Homo sapiens: one gene and its partners. The protein of the gene in region 3 interacts with the protein of the main gene of each other region in a biochemical or structural test. Each region holds a gene or a part of one and is shown on either strand. Other genes may lie near its edges. The genes, in order: GOLGA2, RNF115, RAB1A and CHML.

Region 1 (7,798 bases), on a different chromosome or scaffold from region 3:
GTGGCTCACGCCTGTAATCCCAGCACTTTGGGAGGCGGAGGCGGGAGGATCACGAGGTCAGGAGATCAAGACCATCCTGGGTAACATGGTGAAACCCCGTCTCTACTAAAAATACAAAAAATTAGCTGGGCGTGGTGGCGGGCGCCTGTAGTCCCAGCTAGTCGGGAGGCTGAGGTAGGCGAATCGCTTGAACCCTGGAGGCAGCGGTTGCAGTGAGCCGAGATTGCACCACTGTACTCCAGCACTCCAGCCTGGGTGGCAGAGCGAGACTCTTGTTTTTTTTTTTTTTTTTTTTAAAAAGAACAGATGCAACCATGAGTAGTGCTATTAGAAAGGAGAAGAGGCAGAGCACACTTCAAGAGCTTGGGGTTCCTCTGATGATGCAAGGGCAGTTGGAGGAGTTGGTTTTGTGGTCCTGGTTAGGAGGCTGAGTGTGATTTCAGACTTGGCAAGTGGGAAGGCAAAGATTCTGCAGGCAGCTCTGGGTGTCCCAAGAAAGGTCAGGGCTGGAGAGAGATAGGAGGGTTGTGGGCACTGGGGTGGGCTGAGGGAGTGGGAGTCAGAACTTGGAGCAGGTGTGTAGAAAGAGAATGGCAAGAGGAGAGCAGAGCCACCCGGAAATGTGTGGGCAAAGGATTACCCAGGTGCTGAGGCAAGAGACTGAAGGCACAAACTGTTTCAGTATAATAAAGAAAATAGAATAAGAATAGTCACAACACAAATTAGATATAGAGATGATCATGGACAATTATCAATCATTAGTATAAACACTATTAATCATTAGCTTTTAATATTACTCCTTGTTGCACTACTAATATAACCTAAGAATAACCGGCAAGTATAGGGTCAGGTGCTGAAGGAACATTGTGAGAAGTGACCTAGAAGGCAAGAGGTGAGCCCTCTGTCACACCTGCATAAGGGCCGCTTGAGGGCTCCTTGGTCAAGCGGTAATGCCAGTGTCTGGGAAGGCACCCGTTACCTAGCAGACCGTGAAAGGGAGTCTCCTTTCCTTGGAGGAGTCAGGAAACACTCTGCTCCACCAGCTTCCTGTGGGAGGCTGGATATTATCCAGGCCGGCCCGCAGTCATCCGGAGGCCTAAACCCCTCCCTGTGGGGCTGTGCTTCAATGGTCACGCTCCTTGTCCACTTTTATGTTCCTTCCATACTCCTGGTTTCTCTTTGAAGTTCATAGTAGATAGTGGTAGAAGAAACAGTGAAAGTCTTAAAGTCTTTGATCTTTCTGATAAGTGCATAGAAGAAAATGCTGACGTATGCTGCCTTCCCTCTCTGCTTTGGCTACCTAGAAGGGAAGGGCCCACTGGCCCACGATCATGTGACTTGCTTGATCTTATCAATCACTTGGACGACTCACCTTCCTTACCCTGCCCCCCTTGTTTTGTATGCAGTAAATATCAGCGTGCCCAGCCATTCTGGGCCACTACCGGTCTCCACGTCTTGGTGGTAGTGGTCCCCTGGGCCCAGCGGTTTTCTCTTTATCTCTTTGTCTTGTGTCTTTATTTCTTACAATCTCTTGTCTCCGCACATGGGGAGAACGCCCACCAAGCCCCGTAGGGCTGGATCCTACAGAAATGCCCACATTTACCTCAGGAGTGGCAGGAAGCAAAGGAGCCAGCCGAGCGGGCACAGAAAAAGAGGCAGGAGAGGTCAGGAGGGTGCTCCTGCAAATAGGCCCAGAGAGGAGCAAGCCCAAGGTACCGCTTAAGAGTTCAGTTCAAGCCCAGGCACGGTGGCTCATGCCTGTAATCCCAGCACTTTGGGAGGCTGAGGCGGGTGGATCACTGAGGTCAGGAGTTTGAGACCAGCCTGGCCAACATGGCAAAACCGTCTCTACTAAAAATATAAAAATTAGCCGGGCATGGTGGCGGGCACCTGTAATCCCAGCTACTAGGGAGGCTGAGGCTGGAGAATCACTTGAACCTGGGAGGCAGAGGTTGCAGTGAGCCAAGATCGTGTCATTGCATTCCAGCCTGGGCGACAGAGCAAGATTCCGTCTCAAATAAAAAAAAACAAAAAAAACCAAAAACAACTCAGTTTCTCAGTTTAAAGCCCCCAGCTCTGCCACGTCCTGGCTATATTCATCTCTCTGGAACTCACAGGCCTCACCTCAACATGGGGACAGTAAAGCGTCTTCTCAAAGGTTGCTGGAAGGAACTGGAAAGATGATGCATGTAAAGTAAGCTGATGGGACAATGCTCAATAGAGCCTCCTTTTTTTTTTTTTTGAGATGGAGTTTCGCTCTGTTGCCCAGGCTGGAGTGCAGGGTGATCTCGGCTCACTGCAACCTCCACCCCCTGGGTTCAAGCGATTCTCCTGCCTCAGTCTCCCAAGTAGCTGGGATTACAGGCATGTACCACTATGCTCAGCTAATTTTTGTATTTTTAGTAGAGATGGGGCTTCACCATGTTGGGCAGACTGGTCAAACTCCTGACCTCAGGTGATCCACTCACCTTAGCCTCCCAAAGTGCTGGGATTATAGGCGTGAGTCACTGTGCCGGGTCGAGCGTTGTTTTTAAAAATGGAAGGAATGGAAGCTGGGCATGGTGGCTCATGCCTGTAATCCCAGCACTTTGGGAGGCCGAGGCGGGCAGGTTGCTTTGAGCTCACGAGTTTGAGACCAGCCTGGGCAACATGGCGAAAATTTGTCTCTACTGAAAATACAAAAAAATTAGCCAGGCGTCATGGCACACAACTGTGGTTCCAGCTATTTGGGACGCTGAGGCAAGAGGATGGGTTGGGCCTGGGAGGCAGAGGTTACAGTGAGCCCAGATCGCACCATTGCACTCCAGCCCGGGCGACAGAGTGCGACTGTGTCTCAAAAAAAAAAAAAAAAAAAAAAGAGAAGGAATGAATTAGCATGAATGAGAAAGGCATGATCTGCAGTGAGTTACCGCATGGTCAAAGACAGTGGATACCAACCCACTTGCAGAGAGAAGCTCAATCAGCCCAGTGCTTTTGGCAAACTATGGCTGCCACCCCGTCATCGTCATCTGAGCTCACTGTGAGTTGCCCTTCAGGCCCTGCCTCTGACCCTGCCATCTCTGGAGAGCCCTCTTTGCAAGCCCAAGCCTGGGCTCCCCATCTCAGAACCATGTGCATACTTGTCCTGGAATTATTTTTTTGCCTGTGGCTCCTGGAGGGCAGGGGGCTATCTGGCATACACCTGCATTGCAGCAGTTGCTAAATCAATGAACAAATACCAAGTCTTTCCCGATCTAACTTCTTTTTTGTTTTTGAGACTTGTCTAGCTCTGTTGTCCAGGCTGGAGTGCAGTGGTGCAATCTCGGCTTACTGCAACCTCCACCTTCCGGGTTCAAGCAATTCTCCTGCCTCAGCCTCCTGAGTAGTTGGGATTACAGGCCTGCACCACCACGCTCGGCTGATTTTTTTGTATTTTTAGTAGAGACAGGGTTTCATCATGTTGGGCAGGCTGGTCTTGAACTCCTGACCTCAAATGATCTGCCCGCCTCAGCCTCCCAAAGTGCTGGGATTACAGGTGTGAGCCACTGCACCCGGCCCTCACGATCTACCTTAAGAGTGGTGGTAGTTGTAGTGGCAACTCCATCTGGGGGATGAGAGAAGGAGTAGGCTGCGTTTTGGGGGTGGCTTGCCAGCGAAGAGGAGAGACTATTAGCAACGAAAGGAGTGGCCAGGGTGAACGCCAAGCATTTTCCTGACTGGGGAGCTATGGGTTTGTTTAAAGGCAGGGCTGGGTGAGGGGTGAAAAGAGCGAGGAGGAGAGATGGCTGGTGCTGGACTGGAGTGAAAGGCATCTGAGGAGCCAGGAGACAGGATGGGGAGGGAGAGGAGTTAGCCTAGGACAGGACAGGATAACACTTCTTTGAAGACTGGCGGGCATGAGGAAAGGAAGGGGAGGGATTCGGGAATGACCTGGCGGTTCTCAGTCGACTGGGAGAAGATATGGAAGAGGGCCAAGCGGGGATTGGCTGCTGTTGGGATGGGGAGTGGGGCCGGGAGCGCACAAGGGAAGGTCGAGGATGGGAAAGGGGGTGTGGGGGAAGAAATACTCACAGGGGATCGGAAGGCCCCGCGGCAACTTCGGGTAAGTCTTGGTTCAGTCCTAGAGAGGAATCCGAGGGGAAAGTCTGATTGGACCCACAGCCCGCTGTGAGGACGGGGTACTGTGGGGATGCGGGAGGAGGAGCAGTTGGGAAGTAGGAGCGCCAGGGACTGGATCCATCTGGAAAGGGGGCAGACACGCTCTCAGGATCAGGGTAGAGACCCTCTAGGAAGGGGGCGTTCTGAGACGGGGGTTGTCTGGAGCACTGGATGGGAGTCTTTGGAGGTGATTTCTGGGAAGGGAGAGTCTGGGGCAGGGCTGTGAGGAGTCAGGAAAGAAACTGTGGAGTCCGTTCCTCGCCCACCTCCTGAGCCCTGGGGTCCGAGGCCCCCGGATCAGGGGGTTCAATGGCGCAAGAGGGTCCAGCGCGGGAGTCGGAGAGCGACCTCTCAGGTGCACCGGGCCAGGAACTCTGACCCGGAGTGTGAACTGGCGCACAGAAAGCTGCGCGCGCACCCAAGGAAAGCCGGCCCCGCCCCTCTCCCGAGGTGGGCGGGGACAGCGGTTGCGTGCGCAGCTTTTGTTGTGACGCCACAGGTCCCTCTGGCCACGCCGCTGCATAGCCACGCCCCCTTCCGCTTCATATTTCTCATTGACCAATGGGCTTTGATCTTTGAGGCCACGCCCCCATTCTGCGCTCCAGTATCGCCCTGGTTACGCCTCCTCTGGCTCCGTCGCACAGCTGCGCGGTGGCTGACTGACTTCCGCAGTGGTTGCCGGGATCGCGCTGATGTGGCCCCAACCCCGCCTCCCTCCCCGCCCCGCGATGTCGGAAGAAACCCGACAGAGCAAATTGGCCGCAGCGAAGAAAAAGGTAAAGTGCACCGGGTCGCGGCCCCCCGACCCAGCCCCAGCCCCACTCCGATGGCAGGACCATGGCCAGAGTCTCTGCCACTCCTGAGGCACACCGGGCTGGGCTCCCCACGGCGCGTCCGGGCTCCCTCCACCAAAGTCTTGTCAGCCAGCCCCGCCCCCTCAGCCGCCCAGCCCCCGCCCTCGCCAGTCGCCCCCGGGTGACTTTGGGCTGGTGCTCCCGGGGCTCCCCGCTCCAGACTCGGCCCTCACCTCCTGCCCCCCGAAGTCCGACCTCCCTGGGCTCTTTGGGCTGGCGTCTCCAAGGACCTAGGACCCCAGCAATTCAGCCCCTGCCCTCGCCAGTGACTTTGGGCCCGTGACTCCCGGGGCCCCCCGCTCCAGACTCGACCCTCACCTCCTGCCGCCCCAAACCGGACCTCCCGGGGTTCTTTGGTCTCGGGTCTCCAAGGACCTGGGTCCTGGCCCTGCGGTCCCCTCCCCCATCGCGGAGCGGCGACTTGGACGTCGCGCTGATGTTCCCCCTAGGAGTGGAATGTAGTGACGTCACAATCCCCCTCGGAACCGTAATTAGTTGCGCGAGACCAGTCTTTGATCTTAGGACCCAGTCCCCTAAGTGTTCTCATCCCGCTTCTGGTTCCTCTGGTCACAGCATAAATTTCCAGCTGGAAGGGGATTGGGGACTATGGGACCTAGGAGGGAGAGGTTTCAGGCTGCCTTACACCCTTAACATAGACATTGACAGTGTGAAAAGCCTACACTTCACCCGTGAACTGAAAACATTGGCAGTATCTCTGGGTGGCAATGTGAGAACGGGATTGGTTTGGTTTTCCCCCAGGCTTCTACTCTCCAGAGAGACTTTAACATTTTTTTCTGACTTCTCCACCTCATATTCGAATTCTCCATGGTTCTGGGACCAGAGTGCCCTTCAGTGGTCTCTGGAATGAGATCTGCTTATCTTCTGTGGAACAGGTCTTGGGAAACTGAACTTGACAGCTTGAATCTTCCTCATATCATCTCAACCTGGGGTACTTGGAGTGCCACAGGATAAATACGGGGCATCTTTCTGAAGCATCAGTCTCCCTTTATTCTCTTGAGAGAGAAAAAACATTAATGTACTTAGGGATGACAGTCACATAAATTTCTAAGAGTATACCAGACTTTTCTCTGAAATGAGGCTTGGGTTGTCCTCTTTCTGTTAAATTCCCAGGTTCAACAGAAAGGCTGCCTTCTGCCATGTGGATACATTGATGTAAAAGTTTGAGAGGCATTGGTGCATTTCTTAACATTACCAAACGTGTGAGGATGTATGACTCTAAACCACACAGTGTACAGTTCCTGCCGACTTAATGTTCCGGCCCACATTTTAAGATACATATTTATTTTTAGAGAGGGGGTGTCACTGTGTTGCCCAGTCTGACCTTGAACTCCTGGCCTTAAGTAATCCTCCTGCCTTAGCCTCCCAGGTAGCTGGGACTCCAGGCTTGACTTCTCCACCTCATATTTGAATTCTCCTTGGTGGAGTGGAATGTAGTGATGTCGCAGTCCCCCTCGGAACCGTAATTAGTGCGTGAAACCAGCTTTTGATCTTAGGACCCAATCCCTAAGTGTTCTCATCCCGTTTCTGGGATGAGAGGTGGAAAAGTACCTCTGCCTCTGGTTTTGGCCCCTGGCAGCTGCTGATTTGTGGCAAAACCCCAGAGCTTGGAGTCAGAAGACTGAGTTTAAGTTCAATTCTTGCCTTTTTTAAGCCATGGTATCAATCCCTCTCAGTCACTAAGTGATTGTGACAAGAACTTGTGGAGTTGTTAGTGGCATTAAATCAGATGGTATATAAGAGTATTTTGGAAAAATTGTAAAGTAGGATGTAACTGTGGGGGCTTGTAGATCTCATGAATATTATTGCTCTTCTTTTCCACAGTTGAGAGAATATCAGCAGAGGAATAGCCCTGGTGTTCCTACAGGAGCGAAAAAGAAGAAGAAAATAAAAAATGGCAGTAACCCTGAGACAACCACTTCTGGTGGTTGCCACTCACCTGAGGATGTGAGTCTTGGATGGCCAGGCTCCTGGGGACAGGGGGCCCAAGGGGCAGTAGAGGGTAATTGTTATGATTGTGGAAGAACTGTTGGGTACTGATTAAGAGTTCTGGGTTTGTATCCTACCTGTCCATCTGCTAGGGATGTGATTTAGGGCAAATTGCTTGAGCTTTTTGGGCCTCTCTTTTCACAACTATAAAGTATTGTTTTACTTACACTTGTGAAGTTTAAATGAGATTTGTTATTGTTGTTTTTATGTTAATCCCTAGTACAGGGCCTGCTGTCCTAAACACCCAGGACACCCAGGAAATGGTAGTTGCTGTTTCATTTTCCTCATCTCCAGTCTCAAAGGGAAGCCAGGCCAATGAGAACAGCTACTTGCCATCAGGCTATCCCTTTAGGAGTCACTGAAAGGGCCCCAGGGTGTGGTGAGGAGAGTCCCAGGTGCTAGGATTAGGGGAAGATCTAACTTTTGAGTTCATCTTTGCCACCAGCTTGCTGCGTGACCACAGAAAAACCACTTCTTCCCCTGGGCCTCAGTTTCCTCCTCTGTGAGGTGACATTGGATATGATCAGTGTCTTTCAAACTTGTTTTTTAGCTGGAGCCCCCTTTGTTCAAGTGAACCCTTACTCAGAAGTCTGGTTTTTAAAATGGAGGTGGAGGTTTGTAGTTCTACTAGATTCATTGCCCACATCCTGGGCCTAAGGAGAAGGGTCCAAACAGGATATTAAGAGCTGCATTGGTCAGGTGACTCCACTCTGTGTGACTGCATCGTTCAGGGGACTTTTCCATCTATTTGTTTCTGCCCCTGGCAAGGCAGCAGGTGGCCATTTGGAAGGATGGCACAG
Region 2 (7,029 bases), on a different chromosome or scaffold from region 3:
TCACATGTTGAAGCAGGGATTTCTGCTAGATGGAGCAAAGTAGGGGAAGGAAGCAGAGAAAAAAGTATTCCCATGCCATGTATAATTGCTTCCACTTGTTTATGTTCATTTTAATTTGATTGGTTTTTCATTTCCGTTGTGGATTTCTGAGACTAGAAAGCATGTCCTTTATATTCAGTCGTCTTATAGGCAGTAATTTACCTATTTCTTGGCTCACGTTATGCTACTTTTCATACTCTCGCTTTTTTCTTCTTCCAGAAGATGAAGCTTTTGGACCAGTTACATTTTACTTTTTATTAAGCTATAGTTTTACTCGTGACACCACAACCCTTTTGCTGCCTCTGAAGTTGCTTTATGCCTAGAGGTGGGCCTTGCAATCATGGGTTTGTCTGTAGGCTTATACGAACGTCACTCTGAAATTGTAAAGCAATTATGAGTGTTCTGGCAGCAGGAAAGGGGAAACCCAAGCCTCTCAGAGCCTTGCAGAAGTAAGAGTAACTAACATACCTAATGTCTGCACTGTTTGTTCTCAGCTGGAGCAGTTCCCTCTCCAGGGATATTGCGATGTCTGCCACTTCGTCTTTTTCTTTCTCTTTTTTTGTAGCTTTTAGGACAACTGGAAAACACAGGCCCTCCCCCAGCTGACAAGGAAAAGATCACATCTCTTCCAACAGTGACAGTAACTCAGGAACAAGTTGGTAGGTTCATTTTTATACTTATTCTGTCATCTTCTGATCTCGGTTCAAAATCCCGGTATCTTCTGACAGGTGAAAAGTTTAAAAAGTGAACAAAATAAAAAGACAAAAAAATAAGAAAAAAAATCCCAATACCTTCCTATATTAAGGACCTTTAAGTGAAGCTATAGCCCTCTAAAATTCCTATCTGGGTGCCAAATCTGGAAAGTTCCTACCCCTTTATTAGGTTAGTCAGTTGGTATTTCCTGAGCAATTATGTCTCTTTTTTAGGTGCCATTGGGAATAAAGAGGTACAAAGATAGATAAGAATTGATTGTAACAAGTTGAAGAAAAACTGATCAAATGATTAAAAACTGTGTTGGACACATGATACTGACATTGGGGAAAGGAGAAGAAAAAAATAGGCTGGGAGTTTGTTTCAAATCTACTTTGTGTCAGGTACAGTTAGGTATCTTAGTCATAGATACTATTTTATTTGTAAGCACTGGAGGAATTTAGTGACAAGGGACAGCATTTTGGTCTGGGAGTTTCTGTTCCCATCAGTTCGGGTTTAGAGTTAGAGATTTTAAAGACAAGGTGGGCTATCTTAGGTCATTCTATTTAAGGAAAAGTATGAACTAATATACGTGGTGTGTGAGTCAGGTAAAGTGGTCTTTAGGGAAGATTAGTCTAGGGGCAGTGTGTGAAACATTGGAAGTGAGAGAGAGCAGAAACAGGGATTTTAGAGTGTTGCAGCAGTCCAGATGAGGTTCAGTTGATGGTGACAATGCTAACAGAAAGGAAAGGATTCAGAAGATCATTTTGGAGAAATGCTTTCCTCACTCATTGCATAATGGGATGAAGAAGGGGAAAGAGTCAAAGAGAATTCTGAGATTTCACAGCTTTGTAACTATAAACATGGTGCTGCCATCTTAAGGGACAGGGAAATAGTGAATGGACCCTGGTTTGGGTAAGGAGATGAGGTGATGTTTTACATTTTTTAATTTGTTGATTTTTGAGGTGCCAGCTGAGAATCCAAGTGAAGAGGAGCTGGGGATTGCTGTGGAGCTGGTTTGAGGGAAAACTAAGTTGTAGCAAAGTATAGGATATATTTGGAGGGTTAAGACCGTGGAATTTGGGATACTAGCTGGGAGGCTGTTGCAGCAGACTAGGCATGAGAAGTAAAAGAATTAGGGCTAAGGTGATAGGAATGGAGAGTAAGGAGTGAATCTATTAAGTAGTAGTACTGCTCCAAATGCCTTATCTGCTGTTAGTTCATGGAGCATATCCCAGCCACTAGGCGTATAGACTAGCTGACAGTATTAGCCAAATTTGGGAAACTCAAAACTTGCTGCTTGGAGCTCCCAGTATAGTTCATGACTGTTTCTTCTCAGAGAAGAGGGCTTTCTGTCTCTTGATTTGGTGACCTGAGCTAGACTTCGACTTTGCAGTTCTGCAGCACCACTTCTGGTATAGCTTTTCTGGTATGGCTTCTGGTATTTTCTTCTTTTCTGGTATAGCTTTTATTAATAATTTTTTTTTTTTTTGAGACAGAGTCTTGCTCTGTCATCCAGGCTGGAGTGCAGTGGCGCAATCTTGGCTCTCTGCAACCTCCGCCTCCCGGGTTCAAGCAATTCTCTGCCTCAGCCTCCTGAGTAGGTGGGTTTACAGGCGCTCACCATCACACCCAGCTAATCTTTGTATTTTTAGTAGAGACAGGGTTTTTACCATCTTGGCCAGGCTGGTCTTGAACTCCTGACCTCGTGATCCACCCGCCTTCACCCTCATTAACAGTTTTTACAGAGGACTTTAGGACAGCCACACTGAAATAGGATGCTTCATCCCATGCTGAAAAGAGCATGGTGAAAGTGGCAAGTGGCTTGAGACGCTGCACTGATAAGATTGCTGAGATGAATCCCTTGGCTATGGTGGACAGATTCACAGTAGCAACTGACTGCCAGAGGGCTGTCACACATTGGGAAGATGTTTTTCCTGTTTTACTGAGCAGATCATCTAAGCCCCAGTTTATTTCTTCCAACTCTTTACATCAAAAAATAGGCCTTATATAGTTCCTATATAGGCCTTTTTGGAGTAGGCCCCATTCATCATTCCTTCTTTTCATGTCTCTGTCTACTACCACCTTTACCCTCATTTTGAAATACAAGTCATGCCTCTTAGCTGCCTGCTACTTGGGTGTACATTTTCTTTTGTCTCTTGTGTCTTTTCTTTATGCATTCGTAGGGTTGGTAGAGACATTGGGTTAGTTTTTTCTTCTTTCCTTTTGCCTGTTTACTTTAAAAGGCATTTCCTTCTTCAACAGATATGGGTTTAGAGTGTCCAGTATGCAAAGAAGATTACACAGTTGAAGAGGAAGTCCGGCAGTTACCTTGCAATCACTTCTTTCACAGCAGTTGTATTGTGCCGTGGCTAGAACTGGTGAGTACAGCAAGTCATGGCTTCTTTGGGGGATGATTCAGAGTAAAGGTATAGTTAACAGTTCCTCGAGATCCAAGTAGATCAGATTTTATCCCATAAATCCCTGGCTTACTCTGATACTGTTATTTGTTTGGAACTTTTCTGACCAAGGGTTGCAAACTATGTTCTACAGGTCATTGTGTCCTGCCACCTGTTATTGTAAATAAAATTTTATTGGAACACAGCTATGTTCATTTGGTTATAGATTGTGGCTACTTTTGTGCTACGTCAGCAGAGTTGATTAGTTGTAACAGCTGTGGTGTGGCCTGCAAAGCCTAAAATACTTATTTTCTGTCCCTTATGTATTTGTTTTGAGACAGAGTCTCACTCTGTCACCCAGACTGGAGTGCAGTGGCGTGATCTCAGCTCACTGAAACCTCTACCTCCTGGTTTCAAGTGATTCTTGTGTCTCAGTCTCCAGAGTAGCTAGGATTACAGGCGTGCACCACCATGCCCAGCCAATTTTTGTGTTTTTAGTAGAGACAGGGTTTCGCCATGCTGATCTCAAACTCCTGACCTCAGGTGATCCACCTGCCTCGGCCTCCCAAAGTATTGGGATCACAGGTGTGAGCCACTGCACTCGGCCAATTTTCCTGTCCCTTTAAACAAAAAGTTTGCTGACCTCTGCTCTAGACCATATTGGGAAGTAATGGGCAGTTACCCTCCTGTCATAGATCACTCACTGTTTCTGGTTCGTTCTGTTTGGTGGTATGTATTAGCTGTTATTAACTTGCTGGCCTAGAATTATTCCTGTCAGTTCTGCTTAAAGTTCTGTTTGGGAGATATCCTGGTATCACACCTTAGAGCCAGTGCATGCTCTATGAGGATGCATTCTCTATTGTTTTTCTGTTCCATGTCATAATTTTTGATGTGACAATTCTCAGGGTTATTTAAGTGTACAATACTCCCAGCTTCTCAGGCCAGGATCTTCACATAGACTAATATTTTTCTGTTTCAGCATGACACATGTCCTGTATGTAGGAAGAGCTTAAATGGTGAGGACTCTACTCGGCAAAGCCAGAGCACTGAGGCCTCTGCAAGCAACAGATTTAGCAATGACAGTCAGCTACATGACCGATGGACTTTCTGAAGCTAAAGACCACACCTGAATCAGGGCTGTGGTAATCATCTTACCATAGCTGTAAATTGTATCAAAACAAAAAATTAGTAGATGGATTTAGGAATATGTAAGAAACTCAACACATAATATAAATGCAATGAATGTTTTTCTTCTTTAAATTTAAAGTTAGTATCTACAGATGGAATTGTATCTACAACCAAATGCCTCTTATCCCTGAATTCAGAGTGATAATTTTATAAGTGTGAAACTTAATTATGTAGGGCTCCCCCCGTCTGAATAGAATTAATTCCTTAAAGTCTAGTTAGGGTCCTGCTGTCTGTCATGTTGCCTTGTAACGGATGTTTCCACCTCCTTCTCCAACCTCTACCCCACCATTAGTGTATTTTACTATAAAAACAGTGGAACCACAGCCCTAAAGTCCTGCTGATATAAAGTCCTTTTGTCTTAATTGTATTTAAAAAAAAAAAAAACTACTCTTGATCACATTAGCTATGAGGCGAGGTCAAATTCAGGTATCTAAGACTAATGATTTTGTTTTGTCTTGATCCCCAGAGAGCAAATCAAAGAAAAATTACAGCAAGAAGAGAAAAGTGGTTTATCATTGTGTGCTTTGGTTTTCTTATTTTAATTTTTTTTGTTTTTTTTTTTTGAGATGGAGTCTCGCTCTGTCGCCTAGGCTGAAGTGCAGTGGCACGATCTTGGCTCATTGCAAACTCTGCCTCCTGAGTTCAAGCGATTCTCCTACCTCAGCCTCCGGAGTAGCTGGGACCACAGGCATTTGTTACCATGCCCAGCTAATTTTTTGTATATTTAGTAGAGATGGGGTTTCACCGTGTTAGCCAGGATGGTCTCAATCTCCTGACCTTGTGCTCCGCCTGCCTCAGCCTCCCAAAGTGCTGGGATTACAGGCGTGAGCCACTGCGCCTGGCCTCTTATTTTAATTTTTAAAGACTACTTCAGTTGATGCAGTTTCCCAAGAAACCTACATAACATATATTGGGAGCCTTATGTTGATAGGAATCTGATTCCCATTCCTTTTTGGGAATGAGTTGGGCAGCATACAGGCACAGAAAGACAGATGTTTGAGACCTTTGCTTCTGAGATTTTAAAAAATGATTACCGCTGGGCGCGGTGGCTCACGCCTGTAATCCCAGCACTTTGGGAGGCCGAGGCAGGCGGATCACAAGGTCAAGAGATCAAGACCAGCCTGGCCAACAAGGTAAAACCTTGTCTCTACTAAAAATATAAAATTAGCTGGGCGTGGTGGTGCATGCCTGTAATCCCAGCTACTCATGAGGCTGAGGTGGGAGAATCGCTTGAACCCAGGAGGTGGAGGTTGCGGTGAGCCGGATCATACCAATGCACTCCAGTCTGGGCAACAAGAGCGAAACTCCATCTCAAAAAAAAAAAAAAAATCCCCAACTCACTGCTTTTTTTGTTTGTTTCTGTCGCCTAGGCTGGAGTGCAGTGGCACGATCTCAGCTCACCACAGCCTCGACCTCCCAGGCTCAAGTGATCCTCCCACCTCAGCCTACCAAGTGGCTGGGACTACAGGCGTGTGCCACCATGCCTGGGTAATTTTTGTATTTTTGTAGAGATAGGGTTTTGCCGTGTTGCCCAGGCTGGTCTCAAACTCCTGGGCTCAAGTGATCTGCCTGCCTCAACCTCTCAAAGTGCTCAACTCATTGTTTACTGTCTTTTTTCCTAGTAATCTTAAAATAATTTGCCTCACAGAAATAGAGACAGTAAGTGTCTGCAGCCAGTTCACTGTTTTTGGTAATTCATTGGTCTTCAGGAGTTAAGATTTTACATTGTCACATTTTAATTTTTAAGCCTATTTTTCATCTCTGAAACTTTCCTTTTCTCCTTGGTTCTGGCTATACTTGGACTCAAACTGATCAGTGTGATCATGTCCAAAACAGCTTGGCCTGGAAGAGGTAGGCCTTATTTTTTCAGCCTAGTAGTGTCCCATGCACATGCTCTTTGTAGCATTCAAGTGTTTAACATTGGATAAATTAAGAAGGTCAAGAATGTTGTTGAAACTTCAAGGTCTCAAAAGGAAATGATGGGGACATAGAACAACTGTTGGTGTACCAAAAAAAGGTACAGAGGGGCACCATTTGTATTGTCACACAACAATGATCAGAATGATCAGTTTAGAATGATCAGAACAAAAACACCACTCTTTAATGGGTCTTTTTCTTGGCTAGAAGTCTTTCCTCAGTTTTTGTTGACTATCATACGCTGATTTGTGGGTGACGGAAGGGGGCTAGAGATAACGTTTCTCTGTACTTTGGTAAAGGATGAAGGAGTCAGAGAGGGAACAGAAAAAGTGAGAGAGTGGCCTGCTGAAATAATAGCCTGCCTCTAAAAGTTGTGACCAGAAAGTATGATTCATTTGGGCCCAGAGGGAATAAAATATGTTTTTTCATATACCTCCCATATTACACCTCTGTAGTGATTGTTTATTTGGGGAATGAGATCTACTTACTGTGCGTTGCCCCTGAAATGTAGCTTGAGAATACACACTGGTTTTGAATTGGGGAGGAGGATGGAAGGAAATTAGAGGTGTATTATGAATATTTGGCCACTACTTAGATGGAGGAAGGCTATGTTGAACTTGGGACACATTGCAGTTTTCAAGTACACAATATCAGTTGTCTCAGAAAAATCATGACAGCCTGGACATATTTGCTTGTCAGTGTCTGGAGATGCCAGGACAGGCAGTTGTAGTTTTACGTACAGATAGAGAACCAATGCCTAGAGAACTAGAAAGGATCTGAGTACCTTTAAAAAGGG
Region 3 (7,029 bases):
TGTCTCTACTAAAAATCCAAAAATTAGCCAAGTATGCTGGCGTGCGCCTGTGGTCCCAGCTACTCGAGAGGCTGAGGCAGAATCGCTTGAGCCCAGGAGGCAGAGGTTGCAGTGAGCTGAGATCACACCACTGCACTCTGGGCAAGAGAGCCAGATCCTGTCTCAAAAAAAGAGAAAAAAAAAAAAAGAGGCTCAAAGTCTTTCAGTGTATCCTTGGAGGAAGCATGAACTCGAGGATCAAGCTACCCTGACTTCAAAACATCAAATCCAGGTTCCTGGTTATTTAATATTAGGGAGAGTCACCTAACAGTTTCTTCATCTGTAAATGCTAGATAGCATTCACCTTGTACAACAGCTAAAGGGGTTTAAATGAACTAATGTTTGTAAAATGTGCCTGACTATAGAAGCTGCTCAATAAAGCAAGTTTCCTTTTCTTCCTTGCTCACCAACCTCTTTCACAAAGATAGAAGGAAAAATTGTTTTTTGACTAAAAGTCAACAAGAAGTTACAGCTGATTAAAGTAAGCAATGGCACCCAAAAAGTAAAATTTCCTTTTTATCCAAAATGGAGGTATTGCTATGTTGCCCAGGCAGATCTTGAACTCCTGGGCTCAAGTGTTCCTCCTGCCTCAGCCTCCAAGTAACTGGGACTACAGGCACTGATATGGTTTGGCTCTGTGTCCCCACCCAAATCTCATCTCAAGTTGTAATCACTGAGGGAAGTGATTGGATTATGGAGAAGTGATTGGATTATGACGACGGTTTCCCCCATTCAAGTGATAGTGAATGAATTCTCACAAGATCTGATGGTCTCATAAGGGGCTCTTCCCCCTTCACTTCCTTCACACTCTCTCGCCTCCTGCCATGTAAGACGTGCCTGCTTCCCTTTCTGCCACAGTAAGTTTCCTGAGGCCTCCTCAGCCATGCAGAACTATGAGTCAATTAAACCTTTTTTTTAATAAATCACCCAGTTTTGGTCAGTTCCTTGTGGCAGTGTGAGAACAGAATAATACATGCACCATGCCTGGCAGAAAGAGTAAAATTTCTGATGTTTCCTTGCTACTCTGAAAACTTTCCTGACACTAAATCCTAACAGTACTAACAATACTTTCCTTCATATGTAATTCTCATTACTCCTCATAATCAGAGTAACTTTTTCCCATGTTTGTCTCTCCCATTGTCTGCCTCCTAATGGACTATGTTTTATTCATCTCTGTAACCTCCAAGTGCCTGGTGTAATGTAGACATTTTCATAAAGCCTCATGAATGAACAATCACAGAAAGAGGCCTTCCATGGTGTACAACTGGACTCAGTACCTGCCCTATCTTGCTGAATGTTTTATAATCTAATAAAACTCAGATAAAGACCCAGATGTCACACCTGAACAGGAAAAGCTGAAAGGAAAAGATAATTAAAATATAAATCAACAGAATCAAGATTTTGAAAAGACCTAGAAAACTTGAAGGATTACTGAAGCCAAGCAAGAGGAAATGATAGGATTAAAAGTAAAATCTTGTGTTTAGATTTTTTTTTTTTTTTTTCAGACGGAGTCTCGCTCTGTCACCAGGCTGGAGTGCAATGGCGCAATCTTGGCTCACTGCAATCTCCGCCTCCTGGGTTCAAGTGATTCCCCTGTCTCAGCCTCCCAAGTAGCTGGGATTACAGGCACCTGCCACCATGCCCAGCTAATTTTTTTGTATTTTTAGTAGAGATGGGCTTCACCATGCTGGCCAGGCTGGTCACGAACTCCTGACCTTGTGATCTGCGTGCCTCTGCCTCCCAAAGTGCTGGGATTACAGGCGTGAGCCACCGTGCCCGGCCTGTGTTTAGATTTTTAAAACACCAGTCACAGAAGTGTAAAGTGAGACCCTCTTCTTTTTTTTTTTTGAAACAAGGTCTCGCTCTGTTGCCCAGGCTAGAGTGCAAATGGCACAATCTTGGCTCACCGCAACCTCCATCTCCGGGCTCAAGCAATCCTCCCACCTCAGCCTCCTGAGTACCTTGAACTACAGGGACACACCACCATGCCTGGCTGAATTTTGTGTTTTTGGTAGAGACAGGGTTTCACCATGTTGCCCATACTGGTCTTGAACTCCTGAACTCAAGAGATCTGCCTGCCTCAGCCTCCCAAAGTACTGGGATTACAGGGGTGAACAACTGCACCTGGCCAAGGCCCCTATTTTAATTAAAAACAAGCAAATCGGCCAGGCGCCGTGGCTCACGACTGTAATCCCAGCACTTTGGGAGGCCAAGGCAGGCGGATCACCTGAGGTCGGGAGTTCGAGACCAGCGTGACCAACATGGAGAAACCCCATCTCTACTAAAAATACAAAATTAGCCCGGCGTGGTGGCACATGCCTGTAATCCCTGCTACTAGGGAGGCTGAGGCAGAAGAATCGCTTGAACCTGGGAGGCGGAGGTTGCAGTGAGCCGAGATCACGCCATTGCACTCCAGTCTGGGCAACAAGAGCGAAACTCCGTCTCAAAAAAAAAAAAAAAGAAAAAAGAAAAAACAAGCAAATCAAAAACCTTAAGACCCAAACTAGAAATAATATAGCTACTGAAACAACAAATGGTTGTCTTTGATTAATAATAAGAAAGGGCCATGAGCCCTTGAAGTTCAAGAGAGAAATTCATTCAGGCTCCAAATCAAGACAGGATTTACCTCATGTGTTATATCTCATACTTGATTTAAGAAATCAAATTTAATAAAAGGCATTTATAAAATGTAAGAATAACCCAAATTGCACAAGGTTCTGAAAATATCATTACAGGAAAGAATGAGGACTTCAGAGGTAGAAGAAAGGTTGTGATAAGATCAATCTGAAGGGCAGGCTTGCCAATAAAAGAGGAATTAATCTGATTCAGGCAGCTCTACAAGGCGGAGGAATAAGAAGAGACAGAAGTAAAAGAAACAGGCTTCAGCTCAATATAAAGAATTAACATGTCTCTAAAAGAATCATGTAGTGAGCTGACCGCTGCACTCTAGCGAGGGAGACAAAGTGAAATTTTTGTCTCAGAAAAAAGAAAAAAAGAAGAATCACTAGGAATAAATAAAAAAAATAACTGGCAACTAGAGGTTTTGTGGTTTTTTTTGTTTTTTTCTGTATGTTTTGCAAAGATGAGGTTTCGCCATGTTGCTCAGGCTGGTCTTAGACCTCCTGAGCTCAGGCAATCTGCCCACCTTGGCCTCCCAAAGTGCTAGGACTATAAGCGTGAACCACGACGCCCGGACAGCCACTGCGCCCAGCCTTATTTTGTTTTTGAGACAGGGTCTCTCACTCTGTCCCCAAAGCTGGGGTGCAATGGTGCAATCTTGCCTCACTGCAGCCTTGAAGTCCTGGGCTCAAACATTCCTCCCACCTCAGTCTCCTGGGGAGCTAGGACTACAGGCATGGACCACCACACCTGGTTACTTTTTTTTTTTTTTTTTTGGTAGAGATAGAGTCTCTATGTTGACCAGGCTGGTCACAGGAGCTATGTTGACTCCTGGCCTCAAGTGACTCTCTGACCTCGGCCTCCCAAAGTGCTGGGATTACAGGCATGAGGCAACATGCCTAGCTGAAGTTATGTGTAAAATGGAACTAGCTATTTCGAAAAAATGGTAAGCTTCTTAAAAATGTTCAAAAACCCAGGCGTGGTGGCTCACGCCTGTAATCCCAGCACTTTGGGAGGCCAAGACGGGTGGATCACTTGAGGTAAGGAGTTTGAGACCAGCCTGGCCAACATGGCGAAATCCCATCTCTACGAAAAATACAAAAATTATCGGAAGGCTGGGCACAGTGGCTCATGCCTGTAATCCCAGCACTTTGGGAAGCCGAGTCAGGCAGATCACGAGGTCAGGAGTTCGAGACCAGCCTAACCAACATGGTGAAACTCTGTCTCTACTAAAAATACAAAAAATTAGCAGGGTGTGGTGGCGCACGCCTGTAATCCCAGCTACTCAGGAGGCTGAGGCAAGAGAACTGCTTGAACCTGGGAGGCGGAGGCTGCAGCGAGCCAAGATTGCACCACTGCACTCCAGCCTGGGCGACAAAGCAAGGCTCCATCTCAAAAAAAAAAAAATTGTCCGGGCATGGTGGTACACACATATAATCCCAGCTATTAGGGAGGCTAAGGCAGGAGAATCACTTGAACCCAGGAGGCGGAGGTTGCAGTGAGCTCAAATCGCGCCACTGCACTCCAGCCTGGGAGACAGAGCAATACTGTATCTCAAAAAATAAAAAAACAAACAAACAAAATGTTCAAAATGAGGCCTTCAGGCATGGAAAAGAAATTCCTATTAAAGATGAAAGACAGACAAAGATGAAAGACAGTGTCCTATAAGATCCCTTCCAGCCACAGGAAAGTAACAAAATATGAATGTTTCACACACGAATACACACCCAAATCTTATAAACACCAATGATCACACATAATACAATTATTCCATACCAGTGCTTTAAAGTACAGTTTTGGGTAGATCTTTATGTGCTCTTTATGGTGCCAAATAAAAGGTTGAGACTGTACTTATATCGTGGGAAAAAATATGGAGGGTAATTTGTTCACTGATTGAAAGTATTTCAAGCTATTTCTGAAAACTAAATCCTTGCAAGTCCTAATTTGACACATCAAGTGTGTTTACTTATATCAATATCCACAGCCACCTATCTTTTGTTAACATACCTTCTTTTCCTCATCAGAGTCATGTAAGAAAAGGGAGCAACTTAACCTATCAAACACCCATTTATCTGGGCATGTCATATCATAAGTAGTATCTATATGCTGCCCAAAAGTTTACAAAGGGCTTTCACACGTATTGTCACATACACAAAGCTATTACAGTTGGTTCTCACAACTAGCTTATAAATTAGTAAATCAGGTGTCATCACACACATTTTAGAAAGGAAACTGGGTCTCAGGGTTACTTCGGCCTTTTCCCCAGAGACACAAACCCATGATTCTCTAACAGGTAAATACTAGAACCAAGACAACAAATCTAAGTCTTCTGACTCCTAATGCAGGACTCCTTCCAATTCCATGTGTCATCAGTTCCATGAAAAGGGGCAGTCACTGGTTTCCTGTGTTTATAGCCTACTTCTTGCTAATAGCCTACTCTGAAAAATACTGAGAGATTTATTTTTTAAAAGACCACAGATATGCCCACACTGACAGGACTCAGACCCATACTGAAGAGGCACAACTGAACTATTATAATTGCCTATATTTAATTGGGGGCTGGGGGTGTAAAGATGGATAAGGGGGATAGGATGGCACAGAGACACAAAATATTGAAGACAGAGCTTCGGTCACTTGGTTCTACCAGTAACTGTAGGCAAGTCATTAAATCTTTCAGCATTCGTTTTTTTGAGCAGTAAAATGAACATGTTACAAAAACTAAGTTCCTTTTTCCAACAAAATTCTGTGTTTCTACAGAGTTGGTGCACACTATCTAATAAAAATACTTAGAACTACATAAGTACTTCTCTTCAACTGAGCCACATATGAAGAATCTCTTCCTAGGGTTCCTTTAATGTTCCATGCACTTAGCACAGTAAAAGACAAACAAAAATGGTCTATAACATTTGCAGTGTAGGACAAGGTAAACTTGAACTTAGATTTCCACTGATAAAAGAAAAAGATGAGGACCAAGTTTGACTTAAAACATGAGTTTCTCTGCTTCATGAATAGAAAATTCAATGAGGCTTAAGTAATCTTGAAAATATTATTTTTAATCTAAGTAATTCTTATTCTACCATTCTATCTTAAGTACATGAATCTTAAGACATTTTACATTCAATTTTGTTAGCATAGTAAATATATACAAAATAACAATACATTACAAATTTACCAAAATAAATTTCAAAAAAATTACTAGCCAAGTCACTTACTATTTGAAGCTTGATTGTTTTCCCGTCTAACTCTATAGTTCTTATTTTGAAATCCACACCAATTGTGCTGATGTAGCTTTCTGTATATGTATCATCCTGAAGGGGGAAATAATTAACAATTAAATGTATTGTTCAGTGGAGCAGATGCAAGTCTAAGTGGAAAAAAAAAAACTGTTGTTCAAGAGTAAATAAAAAAAAAGTTTACTTTTATCTACAGTCCAAATTTATGAATGAAATGTATAAAGTATAACATGCTGACAACAGCCACTCCATCCACTTTCAGTACTTACTTCATATTCTGATTACAAAGCACTACTTAACTGTAGTTTCTTTCCTTAAGATCTCTACAATAGCCATTCTTTATTTTTTCCAAACATCATCTCTTGCCAAATTCTTTACATACATCATATAGAAAAATATTTTATATTTTCAATGATTATGAATAATTTTTCTAATCACTAATCAGCAAAACTCTTGCGACCCACCCACCCAATTTATTCACCACAAAACAACAATTTCACTCCGCTTTTTCTTAGAAGTCAATCTTGCTTCCTAATTATGATTTTTTTTTTTAGATATAATGCACATAACATAAAAGTCACCCTTTTGAAGTGGACAATTCAGTGGTCCTTATACATTCACAAGGTTGCAAACTACAACCACGAATTCCAGGACATTTTCTTCACTCCAGAAAGAACCCGTCTTCACTCCCTGGCAACCACTAATCTACTTTCTCTTTAGATTTGCCAATTTTGGACATTTCGTATAAATGGAATCATAAAATATGTGGCCCTCTGTGTCTGTCTTCCTTCATTTAGCAGAATGTTTTCAAGGTTCATCCATGTTGTACCATGTAACAGTACTTCTTTTTTTTTTTTTTTTTGAGGCAGGATGTTGCTCTGTTGCCCATGCTGGAGTGCAGTGTCATGATCTCAGCTCACTGCAACCTCTGTCTCCCGGGGTCCAAGCAATCCTCATGACTCAGCCACCTGAGTAGTAGGGACTACAGGCGTGCATCACCACGCCTGCCTAATTTTTGTACGTTTAGTAGAGACAGGGTTTCGTGATGATGGTCAGGCTGGTCTCAAACTCCTGACCTCTAGTGATCCCCCTGCCTGAGCCTCTCAAAGTGCTGGGATTACAGGTGTGAGCCACCATG
Region 4 (7,497 bases), on a different chromosome or scaffold from region 3:
TCAAAGCCTCTGTCTCAAAAATATCAAGGATTCCACTCATTTTTGGCATTCCCTAAGAAGCCAGGAACTAAGTACAGAATGCAGCAGTTGCCTGGCCCACTCAAGTATAAATATAAGTATGTCTGAATTACTTATTCTGCTTCTTCCAGCAGGGTGTGAAGATGGAGACTGAATCTATGATGGTATCTGAAGAGGTGTAACCATAGTACATGCTGCTTCTTGGCTTAGAAAGACAGGGCTCAGGGTAGGAGTAGGAGCAGAAGACACAATCAATAAGCGCTAAGATCAGGCACGTTCTAACCTACAGATATCAAAGGGGTCATCAAAATGCAAAGCAAGTAGGATGGCCTTACAGAGCATTAAGCTGAATTACCCAATAATAGAGATGAGAGAACTGATAGCTGGAGAGATTAAGTGACTTGAGAAAGCCCGCACAATGCATGAGTCGCAGGATAAGGAACAGGATCCACTCTTGTGCCATCAGACCAATGGTCTTTCCAACAGATAGGGCAAGCCTCTCCAAAAGCCTCTGCATCAAGAAGCTACTTCCCTCATTTTTAACTTCCTCCCCTTCAATACTCCACTGTTAGGTAGTTCTTGCTCAGGGATAACTCAGGAAGTGCCCTCCTTTTCTTCATCCTTAACCTGGATCTAGAAGCACAAACTCCGGAATTTACTCCAGGCAAAGAAATCATCTTCGCTAAAAACTTTTTAAACTCTATAGTAACTTCACTACTAACTTGCCCCCCAGGGCTTAAGTCTCGGAATCTCTTATCTCAGGGTTTCCACCTCTACATTAAAAACAGGGAGAAAGTCATGGTTGAAAGCACTAAATGCCCTGAAAAATAGGGCAGCCCTCAGGCAAAAATCTAAGTGAACTTAGAAAATCACTGGGCTGGGACCCTAGGAGGGATGGTGAAGAAGAAAAACAGGAAGGGAGAAGTGACCAGGAGACACAGGAGGGTGGGATCAGCAGAGGAAAGAGGTGAGGAAGAGGGTGGATGACAGCTAGCACTTATAAAGAACTCAGTACACCCTTGTGTTCAAACTCCCGGGCACGAAAACAGAATTTTCCAGCACAGAAAAGGCACTTCAAGGAAAAAAGAACTTTGATGTCTGTGAACAAACACCTGTTGACTACCCTGGAGAACACTACTGATGATACTTTAGGCTTGGGCTTGAATAACCTTCTTAGCATTGCCGAAGAAACTGCCTGATAGGTATTTTACAATTAATATAAGGAGTGTAATCCCATAGTCGTCCATACCACAGCCTACATACACTTGCAGTCCCCTCCCTAAATTTCAAATGTTTGTTCAAATGAAATTATCAGATTAAAGCTTATGAGGGGCGGGGAGGAAAATATTATAACCTCTGAAGCAATCAAATAAAATCTATTTTCTTATTTCCTTCAAAACGCCAAAAAATGAATCATTACAAATATAATATTTGGGTTTGTCATAGCATAGAGGTTACTGAATAAGAAAATATTTTTGATAATTCTACAAAGATTTTTGTTCTCCCAAACCTACCAAGATTAAAGCAATAAAGTATCAATGGATTTCAGGATTTAAAAAAGGAACTTTAAGCCTTGAGAAATACACATTTCTATTTCAAATCTCCCTACAAATGAAATTCCTGAGGCACACAAAAAAATAATTTCCTTTCTACGCTTCCTTCAATGATTTGCTGAGTTGTTGATCATCCTTCAAAACATCATGTCTCAGTGAAACTTAAATCTTCCATAATAAGAGTACTGTCGAAATACATCTTCAACAATGAAGTTCTACTTTAATGAAATCTACCGATTGCAGAGCTAATTACAGTATTTGTTCACCTGAGATGGTATTGGCTGAGCCATTTGTAATCTCACCCAAGATTCTGGTGTGCTGGAACCCATCTATAAGACGGAAAATAGTAAAAACAGCTTACAGGGCACATGCCAATTTGCATTCTGAGGACCTGAATGAAACTGTCTCATTCCCTAGAAAGCATTCAAAGGTTTACAAGTACTAATGAGAATTTTTTTTTACACATTGTTATTTTGGTTTTCTACTCTCATTTTAGGAAACAAATAGTAGTACATGAATCTAATCTCATCACTCCCTCCAACTTTCACGAGTTAATCACTTTTTTTCTTGAATCTCTTGACTCTACAGGCCCTCGTCTCTTTCCTCAAAGTGTAAAAAGCCGTGGTTTCGTGCCTTGTTGAGTGATCTTAGGAGGTAAAAACAAATAAGAAAGGAGGCGGGCCGGGGTTTGGGGTCAACGTGGGGGGCAGATGAGAGACCACAGGAATGGAGTCCTGGACAGCGTGGGGCGGGAGGGGACGGAGGAAGAGGAAGGCACCCGCCATGCGGCTGGGGTCGGGCAGCGTTGAGGAGGCGAGCGGGGAGCGGGGCGGTGTAGGGCGGGGGGCGCGGGGCCGAGCGGGAAGCGGTGCGGGGCGGGCTGGGGGGCGGACGCACGGAGCGGGCAGCGGGGTGGGGAGTGGAAGTTTGCAGAGGGGAGGCTGCCTTCTCCCAGTCCAACTCACCGAAGAGGCTGCCGCTAAACCCGTCCCACACGCAGCCCACGGTGTCCCACACCCAGCCGTTCCTCAGGCAGGACACGAAGGTAAAGGTGACCCCGAAGAGGGACACCAGCAGGTCGCTGAGGCTGATGTTGACCAGGAGGAGGTGAGTGGGAGTGCGGAGCCGCTGGAACTTGTAGTAGAGGACGAGCACCAGCAGGTTGTTGCCGACGCCCAGCAGCCCAATGGAGCCCAGCAGCAGCGCCAGGCGCTCGTAGGTGCCGGGGCTGAAGAGGGGCGCGGGGCTCAGTGTCCCCGCCGGCGCCGGCCCCTCAGCGCCCGCGGCCCCGCCGCCGTCCCAGTAGCCGTGGCCGCCGCTGCGGTTCCCCGAGTACATGGCCCGGCGCCGGCGCGCCTGGCGGGCGGAGGCGCTCAGCTTGCGGCGGGGCTCGCGGCGCGCTCCGCACTGGGTGGGGTTGGGGCTCCGCCGCCTGCTCTAGCCATTGTGCACTGAGGGGCCCGCGCTACCGCGCGCCGGGCCCGCCCTCTTCCCGCCCCTTCCGCCCGGCGCACCCCCCGTGGCCCCGCCCCTCCCCGCGGCCTGTCCTCGTCGCTCCGCTGCTCCCGGCGCGTCCTCTTAGCCCCGCCCCCCCGCGGGCGCGTCCTCGCGGCTAGCTCGCCCCGCCCCCACTGGCTGGGCACCTTCCGCTGGTCGGCGTGGACGCGCGTCGCGGGATAGCCTGGGGGCCAGGGCCGCAGGGTAGCCTCGATGGCTCTTCACACCCCCACCTCCCTGCACCCACCTTGAAAGCTTCGTGTCCACTCACCCATTCATGCACTCACTTATACATTCATTTATTCCTAAGTATTTATGAGCGCCTGCGCCCACCACGTGCTGGCAAGAATTGGGTTTCTCCCCTTCCTGGGAAGCTGTAATAACCCACAACCAGCCTACGAAGCCCATCCCGCGTCATACACTCAATGTAAACAAAAGCAAAGAAAACATTGAAGAGCTCGGGGTAGTCTTACCGGAAAACTGAGAAGAAAAACAACAAATTGATAGACAGGTGCCTGCCTAACTACCTGACTGCTAGAGGACACATGTCCCAGGGCTGATACAAGAGCCTGCCACCCTTGGAGAGTCTGGGATGAAAACTCTCTGAAAATGGCATTCCAATGGAACTGACTTTAAGCCCTGGGCTGGACCCCAAGGCCTTCCAATACCGTCCTTCCTGTGCTTGAAAGCGTGGGTAGATCTTTCCGGTCACTGAGGCCTGCTAAAGTCCTTCACAGGCAGTGAAAGATTCAACCTAAATCTAGCAGGTATAGGAGGCAGGTGCTATATTTAGAACAGCACACATTTCCCATTGGGCCTCTTCTCCTGTAGTGATGAGAATATAGTACAAGTCAAATATAGGTTGTGAACGTCATCACACTCTGCAAGAGCTGCTTCTGCCTTTGTGGTTGCACAATCCCTAAGGAGGCCCTACAAGAAGATCACAGTCCCCAGCCACACCTGCAGCCTGTCCTGGACACTGGTGACGAACACAGGGTTTGTGCAAGCTAAAGAAACTGCTCTCCATACGGGCGTGCCTCACCTCTGTTTGAAAGATCAGTAGGGAATGACTAGCTTGGATCAATCCACATTCTGAATTCCCTGGAGAGAGGATCTAATAGGCTGGCAGCAGCTCTCCACCCTGGTGCACTGAGCAATAGCTAAGGGGCAGTGTGCTCTGCCTTTGACACCTTGATTTTCCTTCAAGGCTTCTGCTCTGGACTCGCCATCTGTGAGACTTCCTACCCACCCACCCCTTAAAAAACACACACACACTTTTAATTGTTAATTTTAGATTTGTACAACCACTGAACAAAACATAACTATTTAACAAGTTCTATATGTTTAATGTCGAAAGTGTTTTCTGTGTCTAGTCTACAGTAAGTTCTCAATAAATAGTAATTTGAATGAATGAATAAAGAACTCGCTATATTTTTTCCTATTCATTCTTCATTGCTGAGTCATTGCCCTTATAAAGCTCACATTCCAGTCGTGTTGGGAGAACAAACAAAAATTAGATAAATACGTAGGGTGTCAGCCACTGACAAATGCCATGAAGAAATAGGGGTCAGGCGTGGTGGCTCATTCCTGTAACCCCAGCACTTTGGGAGGCCGAGGCAGTAGGATTTCTTAAGCCCAGGAGTTCAAGACCAGCCTGGGCAACAAAGTGAGAACTGCCCCCTAACTCTTCAAAAAATAGAAAATTAGCCAGGCAAGATGGTACATGTCTGTGGTCCCAGCTACTCAGGAGGTTGAGCCAGGAGCTATGGGAGATGGGGCAAGGAGTTTGTAAGAGTTAAAGAAAGAGGAAAGAAACACTAATAGCAGCTCAACAGTCAGACAGTGTTATTTGGAAGAATAAACCTAAGAGGGGCTTCTGGCCGATTTCGGTCAGGAGCACTCTCTTACAGACTAAGAGTATTTAAGGATTTTAGAGTGAGAGAGCTTATCACAGGCGTGGAATGTTTCTGTTTGGAGAAGAAGTTTATTGCCAAGTTGGAATGTCTCTGTCGGAGGGGAGGTTATCTCGGGGCTCGCATGTCTCTGGTCAGGGAGGGGTTTATCTTAGGGTTGGAATGTTTCTGGTCGGAGATGTCATTTGTGGTGTATGGTCATGCTGACCTTAGCCATTAGGCTGATGCTGTTTGGATTTAGGTGGTTTTTGATCAAGGGGAACTTTAAAATGGCAGTGCTTGTCCATGATGGTGATGCACCTGCTCTGTCAAGGTTGTTATTTAGACAAGGTGGTTATGGGCAGGAGTACTGTATTGGTATGTTGGAGGAACAATAAGGAAGCAAGAATGAGAATCGGGAAATGCAGCCAGTCAGGTGGGTGTGCAGTGAATGGCCAGAATATGCAGGACCTTGGCCATTTCAATAAAAGGACTTTGGCTTTTACTCAATCAGAGTAAAGTCCAGGGCAATGCCTACTAGCAGTGAATGCAAAGGAGGAGTAAGAGGCCTTTGACAAATGCTTAAGCATTTTTGACACAGTAATTTTACAATACTATGAACCATTAAGGACATTTATTGAGCTTGACAGAAACAGGCAATGATAAGGATATATGTTTCTTTTTTAATTTTAGAATTATGTAATGACAGGATAATGGCAGAACACTACAATCTTTTATTAAAAAAAAAAACAAAAAACAAACAAATGAAAAACACCAGCATGATATAGTTTGGATGTTTGTCCCCACCCAAATCTCATGTTGAAATATAATCCCCAATATTAGAGGTGGGTCCTAGTGGTAGGTGTTTTGGTCATAGGGGGCGGATCCCTCATGAATGGCCTGGGCCATCCCCTTTGTGATAAGTGAGCTCTGGTCATCTAAAAGTGTGTGGCAACTCCGCCATCCCACTCTCTCTCTCTCTCTCTCCCTATCTGGTTGTCGCCATGTGAGATGCCTGCTCTCACTTTGCCTTCCACCATGAGTAAAAGCTCCCTGAGGCCTCCCCAGAAGCTGAGTAGATGCCAACACCATGCTTCCTGTACAGCCTGCAGAACTGTGAGCCAATTAAATCGCTTTTCTTTATAAATTACCCAGTCTCAGGTATTTACAGCAGTGCAAGAACAGCCTAATACACAGCATAAGGACAAACATGTAGACCAATGGAATAGAATAGAGAGCCAAGATATAAACTCTTACATATATGGTCCATTGATTTTTGACAAGGATGCCAAGGCCATTCAATGGGGAAAGGAGGAAAGGACAGTCTTTTCAACAAATGATGCTGGGAAAACTGCATATCCATGTGCAAATGAATGAAGTTGGAGCCTTACATTATATCATATATAAAAATTAACTCAAAATTGATTGGAGACCTATATGTAAAAGCTAAAACTATAAAACTTTTAGAAGAAAACTTCTTGGGTATGACACCAAAAGCACAGGCAACAGGAGAAAAATAGCTAAATTGGACTTTATCAAAATTAAAAACTGTTATGCATCAAAGGGCACTATCAAAAGAGTGAAAAGACAGCACAGCAAATGGGAGAAATACTTGCAAGTCATATATCTGATAAGGCATCAATATTATAAAGACCCCCTACAACTCAACAACAAAAAACTCCACACAACCCAATTCAGAAATAGGCAAAGGATCTGAGTAGACATTACTCCAAAAATATACTAATGGCCTAAAAGCACATGGAAGGAAACTTACTGTGATTAGTCATTAGGGAAATGCAAATCAAAGCCACAATGACATACCACTTCACACCTACTAGAAGGGCTATCATCAAAAAACAAAACAAAACACAAAAACAAGTGTTGGTTTTTGTGTGGAGATGTGTAGAAATTAGAACCCTGTCGTACTGCTGATGGGAATGTGAAATGGTGTGGCTCCTGTGGAAGACAATTTGGTAGTTCCACAAAAAGTTAAACATAGAATTATTGTGAGCTCATTCCTGTAATCCCAGTGCTTTGGGAAGCTTAAGCAGGATGATCACTTGAGGCCAAGAGTACAATGACCAGCCTGGGCAACATAGTAAGACCCCATCTCTTCAGAAAAAAATAAAAAATTAGCTGGGTGTGGTGGCACATACCTGTAGTCTCACCCAACTATTCAGGAGGCTGAGGCAGAAGGATCCCTTGAGCCCAGGAGTTTGAGGTTGCAGTGAGCTGTGATCGTGTCACTGCGCTCCACCCTGGGCAAGAGAGTGAGACCCTGTCTCAAAACAAAAAAAATTGCCATATGATCTAGCAATCCTATTCCTAGGTATATACACAAAAGAATTGAAAGCAGGGACTCAAACAGGTATTTGTATACTTATGTTCATAATAGGATTATTCAAAATAGCCAAAAAATAGAAACAACTCAAATGCCCATCAACAGATGAATGATACATGGAATGTGATATATACATACAATGGAATATTATACAGCCATATTTTAAAAGAAATGAAATTCTAGTACATGCTACAAC

The links.
Region 1: the proteins of RAB1A (region 3) and GOLGA2 form a complex in vitro, tested with the Homo sapiens proteins (2 studies listed by BioGRID).
Region 2: the proteins of RAB1A (region 3) and RNF115 form a complex in vitro, tested with the Homo sapiens proteins (one study listed by BioGRID).
Region 4: the proteins of RAB1A (region 3) and CHML form a complex in vitro, tested with the Homo sapiens proteins (2 studies listed by BioGRID).

Annotation. Positions count from the first base shown.
Region 1 is NC_000009.12:128,273,008-128,280,805, reverse strand, and holds the start of GOLGA2 (golgin subfamily A member 2), read left to right. Parts: upstream 1-4,798; 5' UTR 4,799-4,829; coding exon 4,830-4,913; intron 4,914-5,309; coding exon of another isoform or gene 5,310-5,398; exon of another isoform or gene 5,399-5,450; intron 5,451-6,833; coding exon 6,834-6,956; intron 6,957-7,798. Other genes in the region: DNA repair protein SWI5 homolog, read right to left, coding at 4,051-4,219, 5,310-5,398. UniProt on the Homo sapiens protein: Peripheral membrane component of the cis-Golgi stack that acts as a membrane skeleton that maintains the structure of the Golgi apparatus, and as a vesicle thether that facilitates vesicle fusion to the Golgi membrane.
Region 2 is NC_000001.11:145,744,076-145,751,104, reverse strand, and holds part of RNF115 (E3 ubiquitin-protein ligase RNF115), read left to right. Parts: intron 1-604; coding exon 605-698; intron 699-2,994; coding exon 2,995-3,110; intron 3,111-4,107; coding exon 4,108-4,239; 3' UTR 4,240-7,029. UniProt on the Homo sapiens protein: E3 ubiquitin-protein ligase that catalyzes the 'Lys-48'- and/or 'Lys-63'-linked polyubiquitination of various substrates and thereby plays a role in a number of signaling pathways including autophagy, innate immunity, cell proliferation and cell death.
Region 3 is NC_000002.12:65,092,101-65,099,129, forward strand, and holds part of RAB1A (ras-related protein Rab-1A), read right to left. Parts: intron 5,967-7,029; coding exon 5,871-5,966; intron 1-5,870. UniProt on the Homo sapiens protein: The small GTPases Rab are key regulators of intracellular membrane trafficking, from the formation of transport vesicles to their fusion with membranes.
Region 4 is NC_000001.11:241,637,346-241,644,842, forward strand, and holds the start of CHML (rab proteins geranylgeranyltransferase component A 2), read right to left. Parts: upstream 3,025-7,497; 5' UTR 2,910-3,024; coding exon of another isoform or gene 2,537-2,909; intron 1-2,536. Other genes in the region: OPN3 (opsin-3), read right to left, coding at 2,537-2,909. UniProt on the Homo sapiens protein: Substrate-binding subunit (component A) of the Rab geranylgeranyltransferase (GGTase) complex. Binds unprenylated Rab proteins and presents the substrate peptide to the catalytic component B.